3 linked regions of the Homo sapiens genome follow. The protein of the gene in region 2 interacts with the protein of the main gene of each other region in a pairwise test. Each region holds a gene or a part of one and is shown on either strand. Other genes may lie near its edges. The genes, in order: TRIM55, MRPL19 and MAGEC1.

Region 1 (7,775 bases), on a different chromosome or scaffold from region 2:
TCTCTGGATTTCATAACAAGTATTGCTATTTTTTCATGTCTCAAGTTCCCACTGTGACAAGTAACAAAACATAAATTTATTGCAATAAATAGAACATGAAAGAATATTTGTGGTGTTGCTTAATCAGCTGGGATTTATGGGGCAACTATTCTGTGCAAAGCACTGTACTAGCTCTGAAACTTGTTACGTAAGAATATTTGTGGTATTGCTTAATCAGCTGGGATTTATGGAGCAACTATTCTGTGCAAGACACTGGACTAGCACTGAAACTCTTGTTATATAAACTCTCTTAATATTAGGTTGGTGGCAAAGTAATTGCTGTTTTGGCCATGAAAAGTAATTGCAAAAATCGCAATTACTTTTGCATCAATCTCATAATTAATTGGTTTTTAATTGGCTGGTTAAGTTTTTAAGAGACAAGTGTGTATTTGTATTTTAAAGTAGTGAAATACAATGAGATCAAATCTGTAAAGTAACAGCAACAGCAATAGTACTTTTGTTCTTGTCAAGAGACTTTGGAAGCAAGGGAAACAGCCAGCTGCAATCTCTGCAATATGTCATCAGCAATTCTTCCCCAAACCCATCTAGATCCTGGTACTGTCTAATTTAGTTTTGGATCTTTAGCGGAAATTAATAGCTATAATAATTATAATAATTATGTTAGATTTATAGAACAGCTTTCCTTCCAAGAGCACAAGCCTCTTAGAGCTCTGCAGATGTTCCATAAATACGTGTCCCCTAATGGAATCACAATGAGGCCATTTCTAGATGGTCTCAATATTGCTATCAAGCTTTGTGGACTGGACTGACCTGCACACAATTGAAAAGGGGCTCTTCACACCGTGCCTTCTAGGAATAAGCTTCCCGCAGCATTGTGTCTAGGAAAGGAATTCTATAGCCAATGTGGTTTGGTGAATAAGAAGCCTTTTTTGTTATTTTTTAAAAATGAATGGATAGATATATAATGCTATCACGATGTTATTCACAATCAACAAGTGAATGCTGACTATGCAGTAAATACAGTATAAGGAATAGGGAAACATAACCTGAATTTCACCCTTTTTTTTCCTCATGGCTCTGAAGTTTAAGTCCCTAAAGGCCAGGGTTTTGCCTTGCTTTGTGACTTCCCTTAGAGTAAATACAGTGACAACCTATGTTAGAGGATTTTGTTTTTATTATCATCCAAACAATTTTAAGGCAAGACTGTCTGAACTAGGAACTGGGCTACTTCGGAAGATGCCATTTCTATTAATTTTCTATTAAGTATTTACTAGATTTTTTTTTCTTTGCTTTGTAGGGATCTGGAGCTACAAAGTGCCTGTGAAGTGCAAAATGTGTAAAATGGATGTAATACCAGGCTTTAAGGTGGAGGGGGACAGCAGTATGTCTCTTTCAGCATCACCATCTGGAATGGATTGGTGTTAATGAGTCACTTCATTCTTAAATTGATACAAAAGCATGGGCACCAACTCCCCTCTCTCCTGCTGTGAGCAACTCTCAGTCTCACTGGGAAGGACTGACTTGGAAAACCATTTTTCCATAAAACAGTCTGTGATTGATAAACAAGCATTCAGCGTAGCAACCCATTAAAACAAACAAACAAAAACAAGTTTCAGATGGGCTTGACACATGGAAGAGTGGAAGAGTGTTACCTGGTGGACTCCTGCTTGTAGATGTCAATGATATTTTCCACCAGCAGGTTCCTCTGAAGTCCATATACCCCATGTCTATCCAAAACCACTTCATGTCTACAGGATGGGCAGCGGAATCGGCCCCCTGATGCCATGGTGGTACCTCCTCTTGTGGGCAAATACGGGTTAGAGGCCTGTTCTTGCCAAGTAAGAAAAAAGGAATTGGGTAATGCCACAAGCAGCTTCTCTGAGACTTATTTTCACTCTCTGCTACTACAAACAACATGAACTTCTACTTTAAGCTTGCCATAAGATCATCCCTCAGGGCTTTCTCAGCAAGTGGTCCTGAAACACAGGGTCAGACCTTATCCACAGTCATCTGCGAATATACCATTGTCCACGTAAGGTGCTTTTCCGTCCACCACTTTCAGAACCAAAAGTTCCAGCCAGAAACTCCACACTCATGTCTTCAGCAGTTACTCATTTATAGTTTTGAAACACATTAAATGGTTTGACTTAAAAAAAAATATGATTCTTAGTATTAAAATAAAACTAGATTTGGGAGTAAAGAGGACACAAACCAAATCATTAAAAGAAACGTGTTTTTCTTGAAAGTAAATGCAACTTTATAAAGTTTTTTTGTTTGTTTGTTTTTCTTTTTTTGAGACAGAGTCTTGCTCTGTTGCCCAGGCCGGAGGGCAATGGCACGATCTCCGCTCGCTGCAATGTCCGCCTCCTGGGTTCAAGCAATTCTCCTGCCTCAGCCTCCCAAGTACCTGAGATTATAGGTGCCCGCCACCATGCCCAGCTAATTTTTTTTTTTTTGTATTTTTAGTGGAGATGGGGTTTTGCCATGTTGGCCAGCCTGGTCTCGAAGGCCTGACCTCAGGTGATCCACTGGCCTCAGCCTCCCAAAGTGCTGGGACTACAGGCGTGAGCCAAAGCGCCCGGCAACCTTATAAAGTTTTTTAAAGGATTTCACCTCAATGTTAAGCACTTGATTCCAAGAGGAGGGAATCTTTTCCACCCCCTCCCCTCAACCAAATTCCAAACAAACCTACCTGGAAAATATCACTGGCACATTTCCTACACAGGTTGTGCTGACAAGGGAGAATCACCACAGGTTTCGTGAACATCTCTAAGCAGATGGGACAGATGAGTTGCTTCTCTAAGTTATCCATGGTCTGCTGCTCTTTGGAAAAAGATTTGTAATTCAGAGATGCGCTCATCTCCTCGCTGTCCCCAAGTGTGCTGCCAGGGAAGGGTGCTGCGAGTGGCTCCAGCAAGTGTTTCCTGGATATTATTCCAGGGATTGTGTGATCAAGTGTCCTTTACGTTTCTCTCGGTGGAGGACATTGTTTCAGGCCCTGGTTTGGAGTGGGTGCTGGAGCTGTTTTTAGCAGCCTGCGGTCACGTGACGGTGGGCTGACGTGTCCATATAAGCCAGTGACAGGAGGATGGATCCTGACAGGTGACGGAGAGCAGGAGTCAACATTCTTGCCCCAGGGAGTGAAGAGAGTGGGTGGGAAGGAGGATTACAAACCCCATTTAGACGGGGTTGTGAGGAGAAGGAGGTCGAAGCTGACAGTTGTCAACAACAAATGCAAATGTGCATGCCTAGCCACTGAACCATGCCCTCTGTGAGCACTCACTGAGAACTTGGCGATGGCTTCTCCAGGAAGGGGCAGAACGCAGCACAGAGTCTGTGTAACTAATGCCAGCCCTGTCTTGAGAGTGTAGGAATTGAGTCACGGAAAGTAGCCTAATAGCACCTTCTTAGGTGAAAATGAACAAAACATGTCTCGAAAATTGTTATCCTGGCTTCACAAAGGCAATCATCAAAAAGACTTTCTTAATGTTAAGTATTTCATCTTTGTCAGCTGGGGTTGTGGTCTTTGAAAAATTCCAATTTAAAAGCTAAATTCAAATCCCTTCACCATAAAGGTATCCACCTAATAAATAAATAAATACATGCATAAATAAAAATTCAAAACCAGTGGATGATCTAATTATTTGAGAAAAAAGTTACATTATAAAACAACTCTAGTATGCTGTTTGCTCTTCCACATTGCTTTCCTCTTCCTTGGCCCTCTTTCATCCTATACTGCCCCACCTCCTACATACACCCAAAAACACAAAGAAAATTTGATAGTCTTTTACTGATTATTTAAATTCTTAAATTATATAATAGTTTGCAACAATAATCTGTAATGAGGTAGTAACTGGCAGGCACCTGGAGGTGGCAGATCTATTATTTTATTTTGTCATCCCTTGGGGGACAGTTACCAGTGCCATTGACAACTGAAGTATAAATGGAGTCCTACTTCCATATCTGCATTTCATCTGCCTCCAAAATACCTATTCTCCCTTGCATTTCCCCTTCCTCCAAGGTGACTTGTTAAACCATAGTTTCTCTGGTCATTTCTGATATTCTTGGTCTGCTCTTGAGTCATAAACATCGATTCTGACATTCATCAGGATTTTGTGAAGCAACAGTTTAACCAATACATATTGTATTTAAAAATGTTTAAATCAGATCAAAAATAAAAAAGAAATCCAAGTCTGTTTATATGTGATAAATTTCGGCTTTCTTTCTCCTTCATTTTAAAAACCTTGGGCAATAAACACATTTTGTTAACATATCCCTGGTGTGAATTAAATTACCAGTGAAGTGTAGGTCAGTTATGTGTGGTCTTAGTGCTGTGTGCACGGAGAGCTTATTGAGAATCTAGTAAGCTCTATTAACTAATAATAAGTTATATATATTCATAAGCATATCAGGGATCTTTAGAGAATTATCTTAGTCCTTTCAATATTTATTTAGCAACTACAGGGAGGACGGGAACTGGTAAAGTTTTTTTACTGAGTTACTTTGGTTCACCCAGCCTAGGCAGTTAATTGTGTTTATCAATTCATGGGCTATGGAGGGGAGGTCTGAGTACAATATGTGGGATATTTTCTAGGAAAGATTAAGTTTCTACTGCAAAAGACCTTGCTATCTAAGTAAAAGCACTTAGACTAATCATGCACATTGCAGCAGAGTCTTTTCTTTTAGAAGGAATTCATTCCTTCAAAATACATTCATTGGATATGTGTAGTGTGTCTCCATTGTGTGAGGCTCTGGGTATTGAAAGATGAACAAGACATAGGTCATTGGCCTCAAGGAGCTCAGTATAAGAGTGGAGATGAGACATGCACACACAGAACATAGTACAAAATAAAATGTGATAAAGAGTACAAGCCAAAAAGTACCTGAGACAGGTCTCAATCGAGAAAGTTTGTTTTGTCAAGGTTAAGGGCGCGTGCCAGGAGGCAGGCCTGCATCTTTCTCCAAAGAAGATTTCGAAGGCTTTAATATTTAAAGGGAAAAGAATGGATATTGGGGAAAGAGAAAAAAAATTTCAGTTGTGGGTAGATAAGAGGCAAACAGTTGCATTCTTCTGAGTCTTTGATCAGCCTTTCACCAAATACATAATTTACATGTTGGGGCTGGGCGGTGGGTAGAGGAATAATAGTCATTTATGTCTTCCTTTAGCTCAGTGAGTCTGCATTTTTACATTAGAGGAAGAAAGCAGATATGCATTTGTCTCAGGTGAGCAGAGAGATGACTTAGAGTTCTGTCCTTCGTACCATGCCTGTGAAGATAAGCTGTCAATTTACACTGTCAGGGTAAAATTCAACAAAACTGTTTTAGGGTAAAGATATTGGGGCCTATAAGGAATTTCCCAGTGTGCAAATTGTAAGGGAGGTATGTAGCGTTTAAATCTTTGTAGCTATCTTATTTAGGAATAACGTGGGAGGCAGGTTTGCCTGACGCAGTTCCCAGCTTGACTTTTCCCTTTGGCTTAATGATTTTGGGATACCAATATTTATTTTCCTTTCACAACAGCTACAGCATTTCAGGGTCAGAGGAATCAGAAGGGCTTCATGGGTGGGGGTAGTGTTTGAACTGCTGCACCGAGGATCTCAGAGGGATGGACGTGTAGTTAGGTGGGGCATGGCTGGGGCTTTCCAAGAGAAGGCACAGAAGCAGCAACATGGGCATGCACAGGCATGCAGGGGATCTCAGAGCCACGGTGGCTTGAGCTGGAGTGCAGGCACGCGCTCAAGCATTGGCTGGCCATGGATACTGTGCTAAAGAGTTTTTAACACTTAATAAGTTAAGCAGCAGGAAGTCGTTAAAAGTTTCTCACTGGACACTTCCGTGAGAGCAGTGGTTGGTTAGATTGATCTTTCAGCGATGATTGGGTTAGATTAGCATGAAGGTGGCTGGCTAAAAACCAGATCAGAGGCTGTTGCCAATAGTCCAGGTGAGAGGTCGCGAAGCCCTGGCACAGGTCATGGCAGTGGGGAAGGAAAGGAGGAAATGATCCCTGGGGCTGCTATGAAAGTAGAATCCACACAGATGACTCAGATGCCTGAGCCTGAGTAACCGACGATGTAGTGAGAGGCTGCAGAGTGAGTCAGAGACAGTCAGGCTTTCTCCCAGCTTCTGCATCTACCTCCCTTTGTGGTCTTGGAAAGTGACTTCACCTAGGAGGATTTCAGTTCTGCCCTCTATAAGTGAGTGGGGTTCATAACCTAATTTAGCAGTATTTGTAGAAAAAAACAAAAACCTCTGAAACAGAATTTTCTTTTAAGAGACAGAGGGTCACTCTGTTGCCCAAACTGGAGTGCAGTGGCGCAATCATAGCTCACTGAAACCTCAAATTCCTGGGCTCAAGCAATCCCCCCACCTCAGCCTCCTGAGTAGCTGGTACTACAGGCGTGTACCACTATGCCCAGCTAATTTTTTAAATTTTTTGCAGAGACAAGGGTCTTGCTATGTTGCCCAGGCTGGTCTTGAACTCCTGATTTCAAGCCATCCTCCTGCCTTGGCCTCCCAAAACTCTGGGATTACAGAGCTGATCTCTATCTTCCTTTCTCTCTCTTTTTTTTTCTCTCTGTTCTTTCTTGCTCCCTGCCTTTTACTTTTTCTTAGAACTGTCCCTGGAGGCTACACAGGAAAACAGCATGAATCCCACAGGAGTAAGAGCCCAGTTGATGAATGTCAATGAAAAAGAGTAAAACTCTGTAAAATATTTGAAAAGATTTACTCTGAGCCAAATATGGGGACCATGACCTGTGACAGCCCCAGGAGGTCCCGAGAACAGGTGCCCAAGGTGGTCAGGCTACAGTGTAGTTTTATAAGTTTCAGGGAGACATAAGACATCAATCAATATATGTGGGGATATACATTAATTTGGTCTGAAAGATGGGACAGCTCAAAGTGGGGGCTTCCAGGTCATAGGTAGATTTGAAGATTTTCTGATTGGCAGTTGGTTAAAAGAGTTAAGATATTATCTAAGGACCTGGAATTTATAGTAAGATATGTCTGGGTTTAGATAAGGGGTTGTGAAGACCAATGCCCTTGTGCAGAAGAAGCTTCCGGGTAGCAGGCTTCAGAGAGAATAGAAGTTAAATCTTAGTTAAATCTCTCCTGGATCAGGGAAAAGACCTGCAAAAGGAAGGGATTCTCTATAGAATGTAGATTTTCCTCAGAAGAGACAGTGTTGCAGGGCCATTTCAAAATATTTCAAAGAAATATATTTTGGGGTAAAATACTTCAATTTCTTTCAGGGCCTGCTATCTGTCATACGATGCTATACTAGAGTCAGATTGGAATTTGGTATCTTATTGCTACAAAGAGTCTGTTTGTTCAGTCTTAAGATCTCTGTTTTAGTGTTAATACTGATCAGCTAAGCCTGAATTCTAAAAGGAAGAGGCTAGAAGGAGTCATGTGTGATCTTCCCATAATGGCCTGAACTAGTTTTTTAGGTTTACTTTGGAATGACCTTGGCCGAGAAGGGGCATCCATCAGTGAGTTGGGGGGCTTAGAATCATATTTTTGGTTTACCTTGTGAACCCCGAAAATCTGAGACAGGTCTCAGTTAATTTAGAAAGTTAATTTTGCCAAGGTTGAGGATGCATGCCTGTGACACGGCCTCAGGAGGTTCTAACGACGTGTGCCCAAGGTGATCAGAGCACAGCTTGTTTTTATACATTCTAGGGAGACATGAGACATCAATCAACACATGCAAGATGAACATTGGCTTGGTCTGGAAATGTGGGACAGCTCGAAGCAAAGGCGGGAAGATTCGAAGC
Region 2 (7,401 bases):
ATACCTTTGGTATGATATGAGTGTTGTTGCTGATCCATGCAGCATGGATTGGAAAGCTGGGGTATAAGCACACATGCTAAAGAAAAACATGTAATTTGGTCCATACTCACCTGGATATACTGTTCCTCAGGTTAAAAAATACAGTACTATCCTAAATCTTGAAGGCAACTCTCAGCCTATCCATTGAGTTACCTTCAGATCTGCCCTCTGGTTCCTAGCTGTCTTGGGACTAACTTCTTTCCTGCGCTCAGCTGTTTTCTGGATTCCATGTTTTCCATTTTATTGAGTACTAACTTGTTTTGCTGCAGCACATCCTTTGGTAGCTTCTAGAGGAAGTTTGTGTGGAGGTAAAATTTTTGAGACCTTGCATGTCTCATGTTTGATTGATACTTTATACGTTTAGGTAGGAGGTAATTTTCCTTCAGGACTTTAAAAATATTGTTGCTCCATTTTCTTTGTTTCTATTGTTGTATTGAGAAATCCAATGCCATTTTGATTTCCCCATCATAAATTTCATGATGATGTGTCTTGGTGTGGGTCTATATTTATCCATTGTATTGGGTTTTAGGTGAACCCTTCCAGATAGTAACTCATTTCTGTCAGTTCTGGGAAACACTTAGCATTGGTTGATGATTTATTCTCTGCTGCTTTGTTCTCCCAACTATTATTTGGATGTTGGATATCCAGCACTGGGTATCTATTTTCTTACCTCCCTCCCTTGACCCCAGTCTCTGTTTTTTAGCTCTTTAGCTCAATCTTCCAACTCTTTGCTATTGTATTTTAAAATCTTAAGACCCCTTCTTGATTTGTAGAAGTTCCTTTTCTTACAACCAAAAAGCCTTTATCTATGGATTTGTTCACAGATAAGGGGTATTCAATATAGTGTATTTTTTTTTCATTTAAAATTGTTTGCGCATCTATTTCCTCCAAATTTCTTTCTGTATTTATTTTTTGTTGTCTATATTTCAGACTTTTCCAGGATATCTGATAATCTTTGGCTGTCTTCTTATGGTTGAAAGAGGGACTAAAAAGCTTGGAAAGCCTTTGGGTTGTGGGAAGGGGCTGTCTTTAGGATTATCTGAATGGGCTTTTTTGGGAGTCCCCTCCTCCACATGAATATTTTGGTTTTGTCAGATTCCCTAGAATAGAGGCTTCCAATCTCCTTCCTGGAGGGGTCTGTCCAGGAAGGAGATTGTCTAGGGGTCTGTCAGACAGCAGCTTTCAGCTACTTCCTTGATCTTTTTCACTAATGATTATATAGTCATCTAACTACTGTCAACAAGTAATAGATATCCTATCCTTCACTTGTTTAGATTATTTGCTGAGATAACCTCTCAAAAGAACCTCTCAAAATAAAAGGTTAACAAGAGCCTATATCTTATATTTTTCTTCTCTTTATCTTGTTAGAAGATAGCTATTAAAACCTGTTCTTTTTCTGTCTTGATAAACACACTTCAATCTTGGTAGAATGGTAGATGGGACAGTATATTTTAGGACCTAAAGCTCTGCAAATGTATGATCAGCTTGTAAGTACAGGTGCTCAAAAACATGTAAACAATCATGCTTTTTACTCTGTAGGAATATCTTTAAAATTCTTGTGAATTTTTCCCCAGAAGTAAAGCAAATCTTCCCCCAGAAATAAAATTAAATGTGCATAATCTAAAGCTTTTTTTTTTTATTGTGGTAGGATATATATATAAAACATAATTTGCCATTGTAAACATTTTAAATTTACAAGTCAGAGGCATTAATTACATCACAATGTTGTGAAATTATTACTACTATTTCCAAAATTTTCTCATCACCCCAAACTGAAACTCTGTAACTGTTGAGCAATAACCTCATTCCTGTATCTCTCCCAACCCCAGGTAACCTCAAATCTTTCTTTTTATCTTTGAGACAAGGTCTCATTCTATCACTCAGGTAGGAGTGCAGTGGTGTGATCATAGCTCATTGCAGCCTCAAAATCCTGGGCTCAAGCAATCCTCCTTGAGTAGCTAAGACTATAGGCACACATTAACTGCGCCTGGCTGATTTTGTTTTTTGTAGAGATGTGGTCTTGCTATGTTTCCCATGCTGGTCTTGAGTTCCTGGCCTCAAGCAGTCCTTAAGATTCATCCATGTTGTGGCATGTGTCAGAATTTCATTTGTTTTTATGACTAAATAATATTCCATTGTATGTATATACATTTTGTTCATCCATCTTCTGATGAACACTGGGATATGTCTACCTTTTGGCTATTGTGAATAATGCTGCAGTAAACATTGACATAACAAGTATGTATTTGATTGCCTGTTTCTAAGTTCTTTTGGGTATACATCTTGAGTAGAATTGCTAGATAATGTCATGTTTTATTTCTCTTGTGATTTCTTCTTCGATCCCCTGGTTGAGTGTGTTAATTTCTACATGTTTATGAATTTCCCACTGTTTTTTTGTTATTGATTTCCAAGTTCATTCCATTGTGATTAGAGAAGATACTTAGTATGATTTTAATGTTTTTGAGAATTGGTGTGTGGCCTGATAGATGGTCTGTCCTGGAGAATGTTCCTCATACACTTGAGCAAAATATTTATCATGCTATTGTTGACTGTAGTTTTCTATATGTCTCTTAGGTCAAGGTGGTTTACAATGTGTTAAGGTTCTCTTTTTTTAAAAAAATTTTTGCACAGAGTATCTTTTTCTATGTGTTCCATGTATTTGTGTCTTTGGAGCTATAGTCTCTTGTAGACAGCATATCACTATCTTGTTTTGTTTTGTTTTTTCTGTCCATTCTGCCAATTTCTGCCTTTTGATTGGAAAATTTAATCCATTTGCATTTAAAGTAATTAAGGAAGGACTTTCTTCTACCATTTAACACTTCTTCTATATGTCATATACTTTTTTGGCCCCTCATTTCCTCTTTATGGCCTTCTTTTCTGTTTTTTTGTAGTGAACTAGTCTGATTCTCTTTCCACTCCCCTTTGTGTATATTTGTTAGATGTTTTATTTGTGGTTGCTATGGGGATTATAGTTAACATCCTACACTTAAAACAATCTAATTTAAACTGATACCAATTTACCTTCAATAGCATACAAAATCTCTACTCCTGTAAAGCTCTGCCCCTGCCCCCCTTATGTTATTGATGGCACAAATTGCCTAATAAATAATTTATAGTTATTTGTATGAGTTTGTCTTTTAAATCATTTAGGAAATAAAAAGTGGAGTTAGAAAACAGTATGATAGTAATACTGACTTTTATATTTGTCAATATATTTATCTTATTTTGGATCCTTATTTCATTATATAGATTTGAGTTACTGTCTAGTGCCCTTCCATTTCGGCCCAAAGGATTCCCTTATGCATTTCTTGCAGGGCAAGTCTAATTGTAATAAACTCCCTCAGCTTTTGTTTTATCTGAGAATGTCTTGATTTCTCCCTTATTTTTGATGGATAATTTTGCCAGATACATGAATTTTTGGTAACAGTATTTTTCTTTCAGCACTTTAAATATGTCATCCCACTACCTTCTGACTTCATGGTTTCTCATGAGATATTAGATGTTATAAAATTTGAGGATTCCTCATTCTTGATGAGTCAGTTCTGTCTTATTGCTTTTCGGATTTGCTCAGCTTTTGTCTTTTGACAGTTTGATTATAACGCGGCTCAGTGTGGGTCTCTGAGTTTATCCCACTTAGAGTTTGTTGAGTTTCTTGGAGTCATAGATTTATGTCTTTTATCAAATTTTGGACATATTTGGCTATTATTTCTTCAATTTTTTTCACTGCTTCTTTCTTTTCCTTCTGAAATATTCTTAATGTATATGTTGGTCTGTTTGATGCTGTCTCACCAGTTTCTTAGGCTGTGTTCTCTTTTGTTCCTCAGACTTGATTATTGCAGTTGCCCTTCTTTTTATTTTTTTCAAGTTTGTTGATTCTTCTCCCTGTTCAGATCAACTGTTGAACTCCTCTAGTGAATTTATTTCAGTTACTGTACTTTTCAGCTCCAAGATTTATCTTTGGTTCCTTTTTATAACGTCTGTGTCTTTATTGATATTCTCATTTTGTTCATATGTCTCTTTCTTCCTTTAGTTCTTTGTCCATGTTTTCCTTTAGCTCTTTGGGCTTATTTAAGACAATTGTTTAAAGTCTTTGCATAGTAAGTCCAATGTCTGTGTTTCTTCAGGGATGGTTTTCATTATTTTGTTTTCAATGAGCCATACTTTCCTGTGTCTTTGTATGCTGTCTTTTTGTTGTTGAAAACTGTATGTTTGAACATCATAACGTGGTGGCCCTGAAAATCAGATATTCCCCCCTTCCTGAGAGTTAGTTTTATTTTTATTATTGAAGATTGTAGCAGTCTATTGCTACATGTGCAGTCATTTCCAAACTATTTTTGCAAAGACTGTATTCCTTCTGTGTGTCATCACTGAAGTCTCTGTTCCTTAGTTTGTGTTTAATAGTTTGACATAGATTTCCTTGAAAGGAGTTAAAACTAGCAGAAAAATCTCTCTCCCAGTCTTTCCAGTCTTTGTAGATTGGTTCTGTGCTGGGCTTTTCCATTAATACTTAGCCAGGCTTGTACTGAGCCTAACAATCAGGCCCAAAAGCGTAGGGTCTTTGCAGATCTTGTCTGAGCATGCTTCTTGCTGTGTATGCACGTAGTTTTCTAAATCTCCCTGTATGTGCTGTTGAATATTCTAATTTCCCAAAGAAACTCCTTTGCAGCTTTTTCTCACAGAACATAGATGGTTTTTTGGATATCTTGACCATAGTCTTTCGACCCAGGTGTTTGCGGTTGTTAGTTCACCTTACACTTTTTTCAAGCATTGCCTACTGCTTACGATGAGTGCTCTGTCAATCCTTTAAGTAGCCCCAGACAGGCTACCAGAGACTTAAACAAGAATTTGTAAGTTCTGCTCAGCTTCCTCTAGAAATGGGGATCAGGGTCCAAGACAGAATGCAGTTGCTGATTTCAAGACTGCTGCAACACCAGGGAGCTTGTGGGGGAAGGGCAAGCAGAAATGTCACAAAGCTTTCTTGCCATTTTAAAGTTGCCTGTTCTTGACTCAGCATTTGCTTCATTGCTATAAACTTTTTACTGTTTTTCAGAGTTCTGATAAAATTGGCTATGCCTGTTCCTGCTTTAAAAAATATATATATATTTTTTAGGGATTGGGGTCTCACTATACTGACCAGGCTGGTCTTGAACTTCTGGCCTCAAGCCATCCTCTCATTTCAGCTTCCCAAAGTGCTGCAATTACACGCGTGAACCACCACACCCAGCCCCTGCTTGTTTTTCAATGTGCCTACTCCACCATGTTGCTCAAGTATGTATATTTTCTAAACTACCTTGTAGTGTTGTGATGGGAAATAAATCCCTGAGCCTTTTGAATAACTCAGAGAGATCAAAAACTTAGTTTATCCTATTCGAAGGATTAGAAAAATGATATATCTTTCACTTTTTCAGGGATAGGCTCCTCATTAGAAGGCTCCTATGTGCCGATGCTGTACAAGACATTTCATTTCTCTTAATGTTTACAACAAGCTTGTTGCCAAGGCTGATCTTGAACTCCTGGCCTCAAACGATCCTCCCAGCTCAGTCTCACAAAGTGTTGGGATGTCTGGCCAACTAATGACTATCTTAACTCTTGTGTTTCAATGTTTATGCCTTCTTTTATCTTGACTGATTGTATGACTATGTCTTCTAGAACAATGTTGAACAGAAATGGTGAGAGCAGACATCCTTGCTTTAATATTTCACCATTATATATGATGTTAGGTATAGATTTTTCTCACAGATGCCTTTTATCAGATTGAGGAATTTATATTCCTACTTTGCCGAAAGGTTTTTGTAGTATGAGGGGGTGCTGAATTTTGTCAAACACTTTTTCGGTAATAATTGAGATGATTGGTTCTGCAGTCATCGAGATGTGGATTTTCTCCTTTATTCTGTTCGTGAGTGATTACACTGGTTGACTAATGTTAAAACAACCTTACTTTCCAGGAATAAACCCTATTATCTTTTTTATACATTGCTGGATTTGATTTGCTAATTATTTTAAGGACTTTTATTTCTACATTCATGATAGATACTGCTGGTATTTTCTCATGATGTCTTTTGCAGGATTTGTATCATATATGGCATTTCTGAGGTATACCTAAGTATCATTTATTCAAGGACCTAAGAAATGGAAAAATCAATTGAGGTGATTTTTCCATCATGAAAAAAATTTCTTTAAAGTCATCTGTCTGATTCTGTAAAAATTTCACATTCTTTATGTGAACAAAAAGCTGAAAGAAATTCAGGGAAAGAATTAAGATGTGATATCAATTGCCAACCCAATGTTTTGTTCTTGCTAGTTGTGTTCCCCCTCCTTATTCCATCCATTTCATAGTAATAAGAAAAAAAAGAATTTTACATTGAGATTTAGGTAAATTTTTGAATTACAGTATATGATAAAAACCTTAACGTTCAAACTCCAGGTATAATGAAATTTAATTGAAAATTACTATAGCAGTTTAAGTCAATTTGTAGTTTTGAAAGCAGTTTTAATATTTTATCTTCCACAAAAAGGTAGGAAAGTTTCTGTGCTGAACTTAAATATATAAAGGAACACGTCCAACATATTTAGTTAAAAATCCAAAAGTCAGAGGATAATTTCCAAATGTGTACTTAAATAGAAAAAAATTACAAATTTCATGTGCAATAAAGTGTCTGCCACTTACGTAAAAAAAAAAAAAAAACCCAAAACTATGTACACATAGAAACACGTAACATTTTTGTAAATAGAGAAAAGGTCTAAAAGGATAACATTAAAATGAAAACAGCAGTTATCTCTGGGGACAGCGGTTGTGTGGAAATGCTAACTGCTTTTCAACAATAGTTTGCATTTTCTAGATGAGATTCTATCCTTGTATAATTTTGTTACTAATATAAACATCAAAAAATTCTTCATACCAGTGAATCACAAGTCCTCACTGCAACAGACATAACAAATCCAACTCCTAAAATAAATTATATGTAGTTTTGAAGGTAGAGGTGACATAAAAGTAGGCTGTATATTCAAATCCTACAATATATTCAATTTTTTCCAATTATCTTTTGAACAACAATTTGCAAAATATATTTACAGTTTCCCTTAAGTTATTTAATAAGTAGACTTAGAAAAATTACTAGTAAACTAACATTTTTGGAAAATTTTCTTAATTTCTTTTGATTAAATTATCTTGCCTCTGTTTTATTAGACAAATATTTTATCAGAAAATGAATCACATGTTGTGAGTATTTAAAATATCTGTTTCCTTCTTAGTCCTACCACCAATGACAAAAAAACAAAATAGTAACTTGCTAATAAGTAATGACTTAATGCTTCAAAAAACATCAACAAATTTAAAAGAAAGGCCAAACATGGTTGCTCAAG
Region 3 (8,852 bases), on a different chromosome or scaffold from region 2:
CCCTCAAGAGGACTCTGAGGAATTTGGAGAGGAGACAGGGAATCCTCCCCCTCAGGAGCACTCTCAGGACTCTGGAGAGGAGATTGGGAGTGCATCCCCTCAGGAGGGCTCTGAGGACTATGGAGAGGAGACTGGACAGGCCCCTCAGGAGGACTCTGAGAACTCTCAGGGAAACTCTGGGGAAGACTGGATGGAGTGGAGGAGGAGCAGATGCTCACAGGGCTCTGGAGAGAAGACTGGAATTCCTCCCCCTGAAGAGGACTCTGAGGAAAGTAGAGAGGAGACATGGAGTCCTCCCCCTGAGGAGGGCTCTGAGGAAAGTAGTGAGGAGACAGGGAGTCCTCCCCCTGAGGGCTCTGAGGAAAGTAGTGAGGAGACAGGGAGTCCTCCCCCTGAGGAGGGCTCTGAGGAAAGTAGTGAGGAGATAGGGAGTCCTCCCCCTGAGGAGGGCTCTGAGGAAAGTAGTGAGGAGACAGGGAGTCCTCCCACTCAGGAAGACTTGGAACAATCTGGAGAGGAGAATGGGTATTCTCCCCTTCAGGAGGACTCTGAGGAATCTGGAGAGGAGACTGGGGAAAACCCTCAAAAGTACTTTGAGTACACTCAGGGGAACTCTGGAAAAGACTCAATAAAGTGGAGGAGGAGGAGGAGGAGCTCACAGGAATCTGGAGAGGAGACTGGGGAAAACCCTCAAAAGTACTGTGAGTTCTCTCAGGGGAACTCTGGAAAAGACTCAATAAAGTGTAGGAGAAAGAGGAGCTCACAGGAATCTGGAGAGGAGACTGGGGAAAACCCTCAAAAGCACTTTGAGCACTCTCAGGAGAACTCTGTAAAATACTCAATAAAGTAGAGGAGAAGGAGGAGGTCATAGGAATCTGGAGAGGAGACTGGGGAAAACCCTCAAAAGTACTGTGAGTTCTCTCAGGGGAACTCTGGAAAAGACTCAGTAAAGTGGAGGAGAAGGAGGGGCTCCCAGGAATCTGGAGAGGAGACTGGGGAAAACCCTCAAAAGTACTTTGAGCACTCTCAGGAGAACTCTGGAAAATACTCAATAAAGTAGAGGAGAAGGAGGAGGTCATAGGAATCTGGAGAAGAGACTGGGGAAAACCCTCAAAAGTACTGTGAGTTCTCTCAGGGGAACTCTGGAAAAGACTCAATAAAGTGGAGGAGGAGGAGGAGCTCACAGGAATCTGGAGAGGAGACTGGGGAAAACCCTCAAAAGTACTCTGAGTTCTCTCAGGGGAACTCTGGAAAAGACTCACTAAAGTGGAGGAGAAGGAGGGGCTCACAGGAATCTGGAGAGAAGACTGGGCAAAACCCTCAAAAGTACTCTGAGTTCTCTCAGAGAAACTCTGGAAAAGACTCAGTAAAGTGGAGGAGGAGGAGGGGCTCACAGGAATCTGGAGAGGAGACTGGGCAAAACCCTCAAAAGTACTCTGAGTTCTCTCAGGGGAACTCTGGAAAATACTCAATAAAGTGGAGGAGAAGGAGCGGCTCACAGGAATCTGGAGTGGAGACTGGGGAAAACCCTCAAAAGGACTTTGAGTACTCTCAGGGGAACTCTGGAAAATACTCACTAAAGTGGAGGAGGAGGCGGCGCTCACAGGAATCTGGAGAACAGACTGGGGAAAACCCTCAAAAGGACTTTGAGTACTCTCAGGGGAACTCTGGAAAATACTCAATAAAGCAGAGGAGAAGAAGGAACTCGCAGGATTCTGCAGAGGAGACTGGACATCCTCACCCTCAGGAGGGCTCTGAGAAATCTCTAGAGGAGACAGGGAGTCCTTCCCCTCAGGAGAACTCTGAGAATTCTGGAGAGGAGACTGGGTGTCGTCGCCCTCAGGAGAACTCTGGGGAATCTGGAGAGGAGACTGGGAGTCCTTCCCCTCAGGAGGTCTCTGGAGAGGATCCGAGGAGTCCTCCCCCTCAGAACGACTCTGAGGACTCTGGAGAGGATACAGGGTGTCGTCGCTCTCAGGAGAACTCTGGGGAATCTGGAGAGGAGACTGGGAGTCCTCCCCCTCAGGACAACTCTGAGGACTCTCAGAGGAACTCTGGAGAAGACTCGGCATCCCAGCAGTAGGCATATCCTTGTCCCCTGGAGAACGCAGAAGCAGAGAGGAGGATGAGGATGAGAAAGAAAAACAGGAGGAGGACGAGGGGAATAAAAAGTGGAAAGAGGAAGAGAAAATGGAGGAAGCTTCCTCCTCTTCCTCATCTGGGGGATCCTCTGCATCTACCAACTCCAGTATGAAAATTGCCTTCTGGAAGCCTTGCTCAAAGCTGGGGCGTGGAAGGTTTAGAAAGAGAGGCATGATGAATATTGTTCAGGAGCAGCAGGTAAACGTGTGAACACGAATAGGTATGATGGGATCCCACAGGACTGAGGGAGAGAGGGACAGTGCCAGTGGCCTCAGCTGAGAAACTCACCCATGATGGCTCTGACAAAGGCCGGCTTACAGCTCTTCTTCTCTTAAGGTGGTGCTCTAGGGCCTCACAGGTCGCCTGTCTTCCTAGGGGGTTTGTCTTCTGGGAACCTGTAGAAGGACGCGAGAAAGCACCTCGGGGCACAGCTGGCAGGCAGAGCCTGAGGCACCAGGAATGACAGTGGGTGGCTACAGGCCGGGTGCTGCCAGGTCTGCCCTGTTTCTGGGGGTAGGGCCCTTGGTACACAGTCAGGTCGTGCACTCACCTTGACTCCTGGCACTGCCTGGGCCTCCTCTGCTGTGGTGCTTTTAGGATGTATGTGTCCCTCACACCCAGGTCTTCAACTCCTGCTTTCTGGAGCACCTGCAAGAGGAAGGGAGGGAGCCCCTCCAGCTAAGACGGCAGCTGGGGCTGGCCAGACTCCCAGAGTCCCACAATTCTGAGGTTCGTGACCCCCTCAGAATTCAATTAGCATTGTCACATTTTCTCAGACAGGGCCAGGCCCCCACCACTCTGCTGGCCTGAGGAAAAACCTCAGGAAAACTCCACATCACTGAGAGCAGTGGGAGGTAGTGAGGTGGCAGCCACCTCCCAGCACTCTACCACGGGGGCGGTCCCTGTGGCCTCACGTCTGTTCTGACGCACATGTGACCCCTCAGTCCTCACTCTTGTTCCCAGCAGGGCCTGGGAATCTTCCCTCTGCCAACTGGAGGCAGCTCCCCATGCTGACTTGCCATGGGACCCCCAGAACAAGGCCTCCTCCTCCCCCTCCCCTACACCCCTCACCCAGCAGTGAGAGGGTGGCCGCTCAGCCTCAGCCACCTGGGGAGCTCTATGGGGGCTGATTTGAGGAGCAGGGTGGGAATCTCTGGGAATCTGTCCTCTGAGGTGGGGGTTCCCCCGGTCCTCCTCAATGCCTTCCTATTTATTCTCTAGAGGGCCGGCATTTCCTCCCTTCTTCTGCCGTGAGGACACGTCCCTCAGCCCTCGGCTACCATCTTCGTTTCCGCCACCTACAAGTGCCACCGCAGGGATAGGGCAGGCCAGGGCTGCTTCTCTCTGTGGTGGGGTTGTCCCTCACTTCTCCCTCGGGGCCCTCACCTTGAAGACTGGATAGGTCTATAAGTCTCCTCCCTCCGCTGACCTGAGACGATCCTCGTCACAAAATGCCTCAGGTCCTTCAGACTCCCAAGATGGCCGCCGGGAAAGCACATCCGGCAAAGCACATCCGGGAACTCTGTCAGGGTTGATCAGGGCTGACAGCCCGGATAGCGTGGGGCGGGGCCTCCTCTCAGAGGAGGAAGGCGCCCCCCCCCCGCCGCCCGCTTGTCAGCCTCCTTTCCATCCCTTCCTTCCCACCTCCAGGATGTGCTCCAAACCTTTCTGCTCACTCCCTAAGCCCTGCTGACCTCTTCCCTCCCACCTCCCCAGTCCTTGACACTCACACCCCACCTTTTTCCAGGGCTGACAGCAGGGAGTGGCAGGGTGCAGCCTGTGCCTCCCCCGTGTTCGGAGGTCACTGTCCTTCGACAGAGTTCTCTTCTTGTTGAGTGGCCAGCCCTGGGGCTACTCCCTCTGTTTAACTGAAGCTGCCCTCCTCAGAGAAAATCTCCCCTCTGGCTGACTCCCAAAATGGAAGTCAGAAATTTGTAAATCTGGGGACCCTGATGGGCTCCTCCATGGCTGGCAGCAGGCACAGGGACAGGACAGGCAGCACTACCAGTCATGGGTGTTCCCTTCCTGCCTTCCTGAGAGGCTGTTCCTGGACTCCTGACATTGTCTGGGCTCCCTGCCTCTATGCATCTGAGTCTTTCACCTCCGAATAAGCCCCTCCCATCCTTGAGACCTGCAAGGTGCAAGAGAGGTAGAATCACATCCATCCACAGTGGGGTATGGCCTCCCAGACTCCAGGTAGGGCTCCACTGCCCTCCGTCTGAAATGGCATGGGAGGGACCCTCAGTCTTCCTCAACCTATTATTCCTGATACGGCCTCCACTCCCTCCCTCTTCTCTCCAGGGACTGTTTTTCAGATCAAGGTTCCCATTTCCATGAACCCCCCAAGAGGGACTGGAGCACGCTAGCGTCTCTCCCTAATGGCCCTGCCCAAGGCCTCCTAGCAGTGAAAACGGGCAGGTTTTTGGGGATCCTCCTGTGTCCGTGGTGGGGTAGCTCACCAGTCCATCCTCTGTATCAGCCTGGGGATGCCTAGAAGGCCCCCCTCCTGATCTTCCGCTCTCATGATCTGAAGTGAGACTCACCTAAGCACAGCCTTCTCCTCTTTCTACACGCTAAGACGTCAGGGGACAGCACTGTGGGTCAACATGCCCCTGGGCCTCCCAGGGATGACAACAGGTGGGGAGCTGGTTTCTGTGGATCCTCTTCTTTGTGGGCAGGAGGTTTCTGCAGTTTTCCCTCAGAGGCCTCATCTGACTACTGGCTGGTCCTGGGTCTTCCTATCCTTCCCAAGATGACAGTATGACACAGGGAAAAAAGTAATGTGACTTTACCCTGAAGAAAACTGACAAACACTAGGTCACCATGGTGATCAAAGTAACATCATCAGTGACAAATTGTGTTGGTATTATGTGCCGTCGGTATGATATGATAAGAATGGCACTTCACTTCTCTGTTCATCTTCCGAGAAAACGTAACCTACATCAAATCATAAAAAATAATCACTTAATTCCCAATCAAAGGCTATTTTACAAAATACCTGACCATACACCTCCAAACTGTCAATGTTTTCAAAATCAAGAGAAGTCTCAGTGAACTGGCACAGCCAAAGGGCATTTAAAGAGACATGATGAACAAGTGTAATGGCGTATCCTCAGGGTATCTTGGGACAGAAAATAGACTTTCGTGACAAGGAAATAAATGTGAATAAAGTATGTTTATTAATAAACAAAGGATGTTTGCATAGGAATAGTACCAGCTCTTCTTTAATAACCACATTTTAACTTCCTTGCCTCTGAGATAATCCCGTCTCCAAATAATGCCACATGTTAATTTCAACATAAGACTTCAGTGGGGGTGCAATTGAATCTATAATAGTGGAAAGGGAAGTGGCAGACCTATATGTATATTATTACCCATGTGTAGTTATAAACACATACATAAGCTCATATATGTATAAATTTTACTTTAAAAACCACATCAATCTTCTCAAAATTCTAAATCAGCTTTTAAATTTAAACACCACACGGTTAATTGTGGAAACTTCTGAATAGGGGGCTGAATTTTGGAGGAACTTTCCAAAAGGGAGAATTGTGATTTCTACCTCTTTTTTTAAGTTTTTGCAACAACAATATATGCAGTATTTATTTGTAAGGAAAGTATTGAAATAAGCCTAAGAAAAGGATGAGGAGCAGTCCAGGAGGCAGATAAAATAACAGTAAGCTCTTGGAACAACAACAAAAAAATCCTTCATTTTTACATGACTCAACACGTTTACTTTTTTGTACATAAATTCTGAATTTAGTTGGCAGGGTATTATGGGCTGAATTTTGAATCTCCCCCAAAATTCATATATCCGTCTTAAAACCCAGTATCCCAGAATGTGACTGTATTTGAAGATAGAAACTTTAAAGAGGTAATTAAGGTAAAATGAGGTCTTAAGGTTAGGCTCATATTCAGTATGACAGGTGTCCTCATAAAAGAGCAGATTAAGATACAGACACACAGACCAAGGAAAAACCATGTAAGAATTTAGTGAGAAAGTGGCCATCAGCAAGCCACGGAGAGGCCAGGGAAGAAATCAAACTGGCCCACATCTTGATCTTAGATATTTAGCCTCCAGAAATGGGAGAAAATTCATTTGTATTGTTTAAGTCACCCCGTCTGTGGTATTCTGTTATGGTATAAGAAACTAATCCACGGCGGGTCCTGGCTTTCACCTCAGCCAGGAATCCAAGCTGCTGTCACCTTATAGCTCCACGTCACAACAGATGTTAAGTGCTGAACGGAAATGAAAGCATGGGAATGATACACTGGCTTCTGTCTAACTACAAATGAACCCGCCAGGAAGGCGAGCTAGACAAGATGGAGATGGGCACTTGCAATCTCTCCCATATGTTATTACGGTGCTCAATGAAAAGCAACTATTATAATTGATGACAGTAAGTGCCTTCATTGCTTGGAATTGTTTCTGGGAATGTCCTCGTAGCCTTGAAATCTTCCAACTTTTTCTTGCACCTACGAGGTGACTGGTGGTTTCAAATTCAGGATTACATCCAGTTTTAAAACAATTCTGTAAGTCTTGGCAGGGAGGGTCTACGTTATTCCCTCAACAGCACTTGGCACTGTCCTTTTTAATAACCTGTATAATTTCTTTAGGCTGAGAATTCTGTCATATTTTTCGTGTACGGTAAATAATCTACCCTGTGAGCCTCTGCTACCCTCCATATGACGGAACATACCTGAACAGCTATACATGGGCCTGTGGCTCACTGCAAGCCAGGATTTTCTTGTGGGGCAGGTACACAGACAAGAGAGAGTGGAAGGATATTTAACTACTGTTTATTTCTCATCAAAACCAGCATGTCCCCCAAAGTATCCTTGTCACCTCCTAAGCAGTCTTCAAGATATTGTTTTGTGTTTTTTAGAAATTCACCTTCTTGTGGATCATTTACAAAGTGACGTCTATAGCCTTTCCTCATCTACAAAGTTTATGAAGGAAAGATTGGCATTTGATCATCTACAAAAGCCTGTTCATCTCTGTTTTCAGTGCCCTGTTTCAAATAATGCATCTCATTAAAATCATACTACAAGTATCAAATATTAGAAAGATTTCAAATAGGCTATTTCTGACCTTAGGATTACATCCCTAAAACCCATATATTATCTGGCAAATCAGATTTTACTCTGCAGCCTGTTTGGTAATACGTTGAGAGTGTGTTGAAGATGCCCAGCCTAGGTATGGAAATGTCACTATCCAAAGCGAATAGTCACATCGAAAGGCCATTATCATAGAGGAACCTGGGGGAGAGATGGATGAGTCAGGGAACTTCTGCAGGCAGTAGGAATGGTCTATCTCAGGGGAAGGCCAGTTGCTTCTAGGTTCTTGCGCTGAGAGTTCAGCAGCCACCTCCAGGCACTCTACACCAGGAGAAATAGGGGCTAGTCTCACATCTATTCTGGTGCACATGTGACTCCTCAGTCCTCACACTTCAGAGGGTGAGACCGTAATGAGAAGTTAGTCAGCAGGCCAGGTTCCAGAGTTGCACAAGAGACCACACAGGGGAGATCAAAAGGAGCTGGGGGGAGCTGCAATGGGAAAAATTGTTGGGCATGGACAAATCTGTCAGCACCTGGACATTCAGCTCTCAAGAAACCTAGGGCTCAGAACAAGAGGACTTTAGGTAAAGAAAGCCAATAATGTTCCCCGAAGTGTATTTTATTCCCATTTGACCTTCCATCTTGTGGCCTAACTTAATACCTTAGCCACACAGTTCATCTTTATTTCACCTCAGAGACATTAACAAGTGTGAAAAGAAGTGACTTAACAGGCAAAGGCCTTCCTCAGGCTGGGAGGAGTGGGGACAGTGTGGGCCTAAATGAATTCAGACCAGGGCTCAAGTCAAAACCTTGTCACATTCTAGCTATGTGGTCTTGGGAATTTATCAAGCATTATGAGCCTTGGGTTCTTCACCTGCAAAATGAGTTTGATAAGCCCTGTCTTATAGAATTGCTGGAGTGTATGTAATGTGAGTAAAACACCTGCCAGAGTGCCTGGCATATGTTGGAATTTTAATAAATGGCAGTTGTTATCAATGATTACCACACCAAAGGTTACCGTCTTTTGTGAAATATTCAGCTCTTAGTTTTGTTATCCATAACATCTCAGAGAATATGTAGGTGAATGCGTCATGGAATACCAGCTTAACCAAAACTTTGGCTTCATAAATAAAACCCAGTACATTTTTTTCTGAAACGGTATATTGTATAATTTGGAAAAGGCAAGGCATCTTCAGCTAGAATGCAACTCAAAGATGCTAGAATTTGAGTCAAACACCAACTCCTTTACACCTTGCCTTTTGCTCATCCTTCCAAACCACTATTTTCATTTGTCCTCCAGTAAAAATCTAGCCCTTGCTTACAGTTGCCCACATTACAATTGAAATAACCTAATTAAATGTCTTTCAATGGAGTAGGCTCTGGTTCTCCCAGGCCAGTCAAATAAGTGCCAGCCTAGAGGCTTCTGAGCAACACTTCAAGGGATTATCGCCCTATGTCTCAGGAAAGCCTTGCAGATGTTGGGTATCAATCACCTAGTTCTTGCACTGTATTCAAGCTCACCAGTTAGACAGCTGCAAGACACCTTCTATTAATTCCCCATGTGGAGACTCCTCTCTTCCTCATCCTACACCAGAAGGAACTGCTCAGAGCAGTTTTCCATTCCAGGTTTTTCTATCACCTTCTGAGGGTCT

Evidence for each region.
Region 1: the proteins of MRPL19 (region 2) and TRIM55 interact in a two-hybrid assay, tested with the Homo sapiens proteins (one study listed by BioGRID).
Region 3: the proteins of MRPL19 (region 2) and MAGEC1 interact in a two-hybrid assay, tested with the Homo sapiens proteins (one study listed by BioGRID and IntAct).

What each region holds. Positions count from the first base shown.
Region 1 is NC_000008.11:66,122,354-66,130,128, reverse strand, and holds the start of TRIM55 (tripartite motif-containing protein 55), read right to left. Parts: upstream 3,001-7,775; 5' UTR 2,861-3,000; coding exon 2,693-2,860; intron 1,831-2,692; exon of another isoform or gene 1,826-1,830; coding exon 1,653-1,825; intron 1-1,652. UniProt on the Homo sapiens protein: E3 ubiquitin ligase that plays an important role in regulating cardiac development and contractility, muscle growth, metabolism, and fiber-type differentiation.
Region 2 is NC_000002.12:75,656,197-75,663,597, forward strand, and holds the end of MRPL19 (large ribosomal subunit protein bL19m), read left to right. Parts: 3' UTR 1-6,010; downstream 6,011-7,401.
Region 3 is NC_000023.11:141,898,655-141,907,506, reverse strand, and holds the start of MAGEC1 (melanoma-associated antigen C1), read right to left. Parts: upstream 3,614-8,852; 5' UTR 3,529-3,613; intron 2,791-3,528; 5' UTR 2,693-2,790; intron 2,538-2,692; 5' UTR 2,435-2,537; coding exon 2,431-2,434; intron 2,099-2,430; coding exon 1-2,098.